2 linked regions of the Homo sapiens genome follow. The protein of the gene in region 2 purifies or fractionates together with the protein of the main gene of each other region. This does not show direct contact. Each region holds a gene or a part of one and is shown on either strand. Other genes may lie near its edges. The genes, in order: EMCN and SELL.

Region 1 (3,826 bases), on a different chromosome or scaffold from region 2:
GGATGAGCTTTTGACTTTCAGGGCTGAGAGAAGTTAATGAAGAGAGATTCCTCCAAGAAGAAGGAAACAATATGCACTTACTCATCAAGTGCCACTTGCTTTTTGAAATTTGCCTTAACTTGGGAAATATTAAAATGTTGTAGGCATTCTCAGACAGGGACAAACACCATTTTCTTTATTGGTATATGAAGAAGGATTTAATTGCTTGGAGAAATTCCTTTGTTAGTGATTGAACATTCAATTTCATGAAAAAGAAAGATTAAACACACTATCAGCAGACTCCATGCTAAATATCGTAAGTTTATAGAACTTAATAAAAGTTAACCCTCACCGTAGAAGTGGGGGAGAGAGGAAGATGAGGGAAGTTATTATCAATTTGGCTATATTGTAGGCTTTAAGAGGTAAATAAAGAATGACATAGAAAATTTACAACTAGCCTGGTTTTGGATGTAAGGACATCTGAAACGGCTACATATAAAAGTGGAAATTATTATAAGCTTTGAAGCTTGAAAATCAAGAGGTTCTAGAGGAAGGGAATTTATTGAGTAGATACATTGAAACATTGGTATATTCTAGTCTAGAAACATAAAGAGGTCACAATTTGGGCATAGTTAAGTACTGAGAAATAAGATTGGAATATAGCCTCAGGAGATATTGAATACCAGGATGAGAAATATTGACTCATATAGTTAATTAGTTTGAGTCTGTAAATGGTTTGAGTATGGGAATTATATGATCATGGCTATAAAATGGGAAGACTAATCTGTCAGCAGAATATAGATTAGACTACTGGAGTCAAGAGAAATAAAAGGTAAGGAAACTAGGTCAACTGTCATTGCAAGTCTGAGAGTGTGTCAATAAAATGAAAAGAAGGGTCTAGGAAGAGCTTTAAGGAAGTAGAAAGTGTGTGATTTGACATATCATTGACTGGCAGTGAAGGAGAATGTGACTGAAATGCAGAGACAGAGTTTTTTTTAATACCAGAAATAGGAAAATGGCTTGGGAGCAGAGATTAGGAAAGATATGAGGAGACGGTTTAGTGAGAAAAATGGTATTTGGTTTTGGACATGGTGATTTTGTAATCCTGATATTTATGTAGAGATGTTCAATGGTAAATTAAAAGTGTCTGATGCGTAGTCGGTATGCCCCTGGAGCCAGAGGTGATGTTGAGAGGTGAATGTTCTTTAGTCCTGAATCCAAATATTTCTTAATCTTGCCCATTGTAACATTAATAACATAGAGAAGCAATTTATCCTTCTTCTGGATGCCCGTATATCTAACTCTCCTAAGGTACTTATTTCCAATTCTGTCATAGTTATTTGCATGAATGTCTTATTTCTCTACAAGATTATAAGTGCCTTGAAAGTAAGGGCTATATTTGTTACAGATTGCTCAGCAACAGTTCTGAACACATAATAAGGACATAGTTGTCTGAATGAATGGATAATTGAATGAAATAGTTGCCTTCTTATTATTTTCATATTTTAATTTCTTCCTATGACAATCACCTAATAGTTTACTATCTTGTCCTTATGAAAAAGTTATGGACAAGTATGAATCAGAGAACATAATATAGAAAAAAGTCGATTATTTTGATTTCAGTTATGAAAGTGAGCACCAAATATAAGGGAAAGGGATTCTTATCAAAGGTTAGCCAGCTCTCAAACTATAACCACTTTGGGGAAGAATATCTAAACAGAACCAGCTCTACTTATTTTTGGGTATCAAATACTCAATGTGATACATTCCTATAGTTAAAAGTATTCAAGGAGCTACCTTATTCTCAACCAACTTCTCAAAAATACAAAATGGCTTTTTTACAAGTGAAATTTACAGAAATAGAAGTTGGAGGAAAGTTAAAAAAAATCATACATCTTTATGCGTCATTACAGGTAACGTGAGTTGCTTCAGAGTAGATAATTTTGCTAAGTACTTCTGTTGAGCTTAATCCACACCAGTATCTCTTACCTGAAATGGGTAGTCTATTGTAGGAAGACTAAACCAATATAGAACAAATCCAAATGGAAAAGTATTTAGTCTGCAAACCATTTCTTTGCATTCTTTCTCCACTGCTGATTTTTAATAATCCCCACCTAAAAGTAGAAGTGATCATTCTAGAACTCCTACTTTCAAAAGATTTATAACAGTTGTCAGAAACAAATTCTCTGGCAATTTTATCTTGAAAATTGTAGTTATCCAGACAACTAAGAAAAAAATGAATATTTAAGGGTTTCACAAAGCTTTGAATTTACTAGACAACTGCCCATCCTTTCCTTTTCATTGGTGAAGTTACATTTCAAGCTGCAGCCAAATATTTTAACTTGTGAATAATTATCTAATTCAAGTTACTCACATTCTTTTTTTCTTAGTAATCACTTTCCAACTTCCTCTTTGTCTTTAAGAACAACATGAGATGCACGTTTCTAAATACTGAATGTCAGAGTAGGAATTTTTTTTTTTTTTTTTTGAGATGGAGTTTTGCTCTTGTTGCCCAGGCTGGAGTGCAACGGTATGATATTGGCTCACTGCAACTTCCGCATCCCGGGTTCAAGCGATTCTCCTGCCTCAGCCTCCCAAGTAGCTGGGATTACAGACACCCACCACCATGCCCAGCTAAATTTTTTTATTTTTAGTAGAGACAGGGTTTTACCATGCTGGCCAGACTGGTTGCGAACTCCTGACCTCAGGTGATCCACCTGCCTCGGTCTCCCAAAATGCTGGGATTACAGGCATGAGCCACCATGCCCAGCTCAGAATAGGAATTTAAGTAACTTTCAATTCCTGTGTACTGAATCCTTTCCAGCTACTGAATTCCTATCCATTATAGGTCTGTTAGCTTAGGCTAACAGTACCTTTTGACTGATAGAAGCAGCTCTCTCAGTTAGCAAACAAGATCCTTTTTGTACCATTGCACACCATGGGAAACATTAGTGGTGTCAATTACATCTAGAAAGGGCACTATATGGTTCCCAAATTTGGGGCAACCATAAGAAAAATAGATTTTTAAAACTTGAATAGAGGTTTCATATCCTATAGAATGATATATGTAGAGATAATCATAATTAGTCCCAAAGTAGAAGAAGTCACCGTATGAGCATTAGATTCCTGTTGTGTCTTTCCCTACATCTTCTCTGGCCACGTTTACTCCAGCCATTGCTATGGCAACCAGCTACGCACGGGTGTAACCTGACAGCCGCTTGCCTCACTTTAATGCATATATCCTGCTTTCTTTCTGGTGCTATTCTGTTATAAAGGTGCATTTCAGAATCTGGCATTATCAGATGCCTGAACTAGAAGTGCAGGAGCATTAGCATTCTATGAGACAGCTCCTGACAAAAGAGGGAATGGAGTCACTGAATACATAAATGCTTTTCTCTTATATTCCTGCTCCAGTTTCATTGTTTTAGTCCTTTTCTCCTCTTCCTATTTTTTTTTTTATAAACTGTCTGAACAGAAGCCCTTGTTTCAGGCTCTGCTATTTAGGAAAACCCAGGATTTATTATTTTTCTTGATGAGAACATTTTAGTTTAGATGGTAGTGTATATCTAAGTAAAGATTAGTTTTGGTTTCTCTGACACTCTCATTAATATGTACTACCCTTCTTCCTTTTCATTTCAAAGAAAATGAAATATCTTTGATCAATCTTTTGTTACATAAGCTTAACAATATTCTAAACAGATTCTGTTCTAAGGCAATTATTTGCCTGTTTGCAGTAATGAATTATACTGTGAGGTTAGTAGTAAAAAATGTTGATGTCATTGATTTTATTCTTTCTGTACTTCTCAACTGAAATGTGAACTGTTTTTTTAAATCCATTGAATCAGTC
Region 2 (3,826 bases):
TTTTCATGTGAAGTTAAACTCACATACCTTTTTTTAATCTCCTTGCCAGCCAAATGATAAATGCCAACCCAGAGAATGCAGTAACCATGACTGCCACTGGAATGAAGAGGGGGTTATAATCACCCTCCTTAATCATTGAGAAACTTTTGTCCAATTCTGAAAGAGAAATCAGTAAGGCACATAGCATGAGACCACCAGCATTATTTCCTTAGTCTATCTCATGATATTTGACTTTTTTCCTCCTTACATCTCCCAGTAGTAGCCCATTTGATGCCATTTGACAGATGAGGAAACTGGCATGGGAAGGCCCCTGATGAGTCTACAGCATAGGCAAAGACTGGACCAGCCTTGCTAGTCTAATGCCTACAGAATCTCAATGCCCAGATTTGTGGTTCATAGAGTTCCTGAAAATGCACCTAAAAATGTTGGCAAGAATGGTCATCGTTGTATTTAGCTCCATGGACTTGTTCAATGACTGGAACTCTGAAACACAGAGAAGAGCTAAAAGCCTAATACAACTTCAGGAAAAATAAAAGCCAATGATCTGAACTGGATAATTCACCAGTCAAAGGAAATCATTAATGCTTTTACTTTAAAGCAGTTGTGCAAAAATAAGCACTTGATTTTTACATGCCAAGGACCTGCACTAATTTCTTTCCAATGCAGTAGTTACCACTTCCCTCTACTTCCTTCACGAATAAGTAAAAGGGCATGTTTAGAGATACTCTTGTAAGTGTAAACTAAGTTCATTTGGGAGCCTCTATTTGAAAATACTGGTATAAAAAAAAATCTGTCTCCTGATACTAACATTTGAAGGAATCTACTTTTTTACATATTGGCAGAGGGTCTGATTCTATCCTTAGTTCTTCCCATTACTTTGATGAACCTTTTCAAGGTGATTTGATCCCCACACCCAAATATATGATTGAGAGAAGGCTCAAGTTCCCAGGAGCTCCAGACAGAAGGTACCTGTTGGCTTGATGAAGATGAGGAGGAAATGAACACTAGCTAGGCCTTAAAGGGAAATGTCTCTGATAGGCCTAATACACAGTCCTCTGCTAAAGGCCTCCCTGCCTCTCTCTGCTCATCCACTCTACTCCCTGGCCCTGGGCACGCAGCACACAGAGATCAGCATTTCTGACAGCTTCTGTAGATCCTACCATTTAAAGACTTTTGTCATCCATGCAGATAGTCTCAGGAGCAGACACAGGTAGCTATTCTTTCACATGCTAGCTTAACATGCATTTGCTTTAGCACCTATTGCCAGGCACTGTGTCAGGTGGAGGGTATACAAAGATGAACAAGACATGATTCTTCTCATATACAGATAGATTTTGGAGGCATTAGCTTAGTGATGATTCAGGAGTATCCATTATTTGGGGAAGTAGGTGGTCATTAGTGACCTTTTACAGGCATTTCAATGGGCTAACAGAGATGTTAGATTGTAGTGGAATAGAAGAATGGGTAAAAAGTAAATCAGTGAGTTCAGATTTTAGGAGTTAAGATGGCAAGAGGTGAGAACAAAAAAAGGAAATGATTGTCATTAAAGGAGGAGGAAAGACCAGCCAAAGATTTTACAGTGAGTTAAGCATACAAATTTATTTCTAGGCCACATATTCTTAGCAAAACAACATGTAAATGTTTATGTATGTCTTTCCTCATATCTGCTCATCCATCAGCTCCATCGTTAAGATTTCAGTTTTCCAGGACAAACTTACTCACTTTGACATATTGGACTAGGATTTGACCAGATTCCAGATGATTCACAAATGGTTTTCTTCTTCCCAATTAACTCAGTTCCTTCTGAGCAGATGAAGGTACATGCAGAGGTAAAGCTGAAGCTGGCCAGGGGATGGCTACAGTTCATGATCCCCAAATCTGGTGCTGATAGAGGCTCACACTGAATCACTTCAATGAAAAAGAAAAAAAAAAAAAAGACAAAACAGTATTTCTGAGTAGAGACCCTCCCTTGAGCAAAGGATTTTTAGCCAAAGCTGCCTGACTACATTACTTGTGATATTGCTTCCAGGCTTTATTTTCTTGAGAATGATGGTGGGTGGTGAATGAGAGATGAAGGCAAGGAAGCATTGAAAGCTGTGGGGAGAGGAGTAGCTACTCCAGGCTGCTGCCCTAGCTAAGGTGACCCTCCCCTTCTGCTGGAAGTACCATGCCATATGGCCTCTGCATCAAGGGCTCTTATGGGATATTCTCAGAGAATCTCTGCCGTTTCATCTGTTCTGATATCTACCCAAGCATTTTGAAAAACATCCCAATTCACTGAAGCAAGTCCAACTTCCGTAAATTCCAGTAGGTGGGTTGACAGTTTTATAATTTCAATAAGGGATTTTGATAGCACTTCTAAGAATTAAACTACTTAAACTAATGCATCAGGAGCATACTTGTAGAAAAGTTAACCAAAACTTCGTAAGTTCAGATGACATTGGTTTTCTCCCATATGGAGATAAGGTTGGCAGTTAAAAATGAAAAAAAAAAAAAAACCTACCTTATTTCAAACTTGAAAAGATCAAGAGATTGTGTTTTTGTTTTTCAGTTGTTATTCTCCTAAAAGTTTATGCATGAGGAAAAGTAAAAGTGATTTTAAGAATAAGCCAAATAAAACAACCAAGAAAGACCTCCACTACCCTGGGAAGGAAACTGGTTGGTATTAAGTAGGACACCACATAAAACAGGTGTTATTGAGAGGAGAAGAACCAAAATGTAACTGAGGTTCAACAAGACATTATTTATGCAATGGCAATGAGAAAAATAAAAAACACAGTATAACCATGCTGTATTGCTATAAGTCATGTTACACACTGGGAGATGGCTTCAGGGGTATTTGGTTTTTACTTTTTGTTTGGGAGGTTTTTCAAAAAAATTTAGTTAGAATAAGTCCTTTGAGAAACATCACAGTAGGTTAAACAAAGTTAGGTTAAATTAGGCTCCTAAGTTTGACTTCTCAGCAAACTTCTACTGAATGTTCTGACTGTAAGCCCAGGATTGCATGACAAAACCTCTAGTCTGAAGTTACTCACCTTGACAGGTTGGTTCTGGAGATGACCAGTTTCCAAATGGTCCACAGGTGGTTTCTTCAATCCCAGTTAAGTTTGTTCCTTCAGAGCAGCTGAAGGCACACTGTGAGCTGAAGCTGAAGTTTCCCAAAGGGTGAGTACAGTCCATGGTACCCAGCTCTGGGGCCTCCAAAGGCTCACACTGAATCACTTCAATAGGGAAAGAAACAGTATGGGGAAGAGTTAAGAGGAACTGACGCCTGGATTTGAATCCTAGCCCTGCCACTTGATAACCATGTGCCTTTAAACAAGGTTACTTGAACCCTCCAACTTCAGTTTCTTCATCTATATAAGAGGAATAATGAAATTGTGTTATCTTTATCAAATTGATATGGAAACTAAATGTAATTCAATTAGCATAAGTCAAGGACCTTAGAACAAAGCCTGACTCATCAGAAATTCTAAGTAAACATTAGCTAGTCTTCATATTATTATCTTCAGCATTATCTGTAGTGAGAATCCTTAAAGCCAAATAGGTGTAACTGGGAATGACCAGCTTAGTCGGGAAATAACTATCACATCAGAGCCCCTGAGTCTACTAGAGTATTGGGAGCAAGATGTTCAGAGAAAGAGTGGGTCTCCATAATAAGCCTTCTTTGCAAGGAGAGAATATAAAAGTCTAGGAAGCATTTTGACCTCAATTCTGTCTTCTATTCTAGCTCAGTTCCAGAATTTTAACTCTTTTGATTTTGACAACCCTCTCCAGAAACTGTATCTATTTCCCTGTTCTGATTGGTGGTACAATAGGTAAATTT

What was found.
Region 1: the proteins of SELL (region 2) and EMCN purify together in Homo sapiens (affinity purification with western blotting, with the first as the bait; one study listed by BioGRID). This does not show direct contact.

What each region holds. Positions count from the first base shown.
Region 1 is NC_000004.12:100,511,448-100,515,273, reverse strand, and holds part of EMCN (endomucin isoform 1 precursor), read left to right. Parts: intron 1-3,826. UniProt on the Homo sapiens protein: Endothelial sialomucin, also called endomucin or mucin-like sialoglycoprotein, which interferes with the assembly of focal adhesion complexes and inhibits interaction between cells and the extracellular matrix.
Region 2 is NC_000001.11:169,701,533-169,705,358, forward strand, and holds part of SELL (L-selectin precursor), read right to left. Parts: intron 3,222-3,826; coding exon 3,036-3,221; intron 1,909-3,035; coding exon 1,723-1,908; intron 157-1,722; coding exon 28-156; intron 1-27. UniProt on the Homo sapiens protein: Calcium-dependent lectin that mediates cell adhesion by binding to glycoproteins on neighboring cells. Mediates the adherence of lymphocytes to endothelial cells of high endothelial venules in peripheral lymph nodes.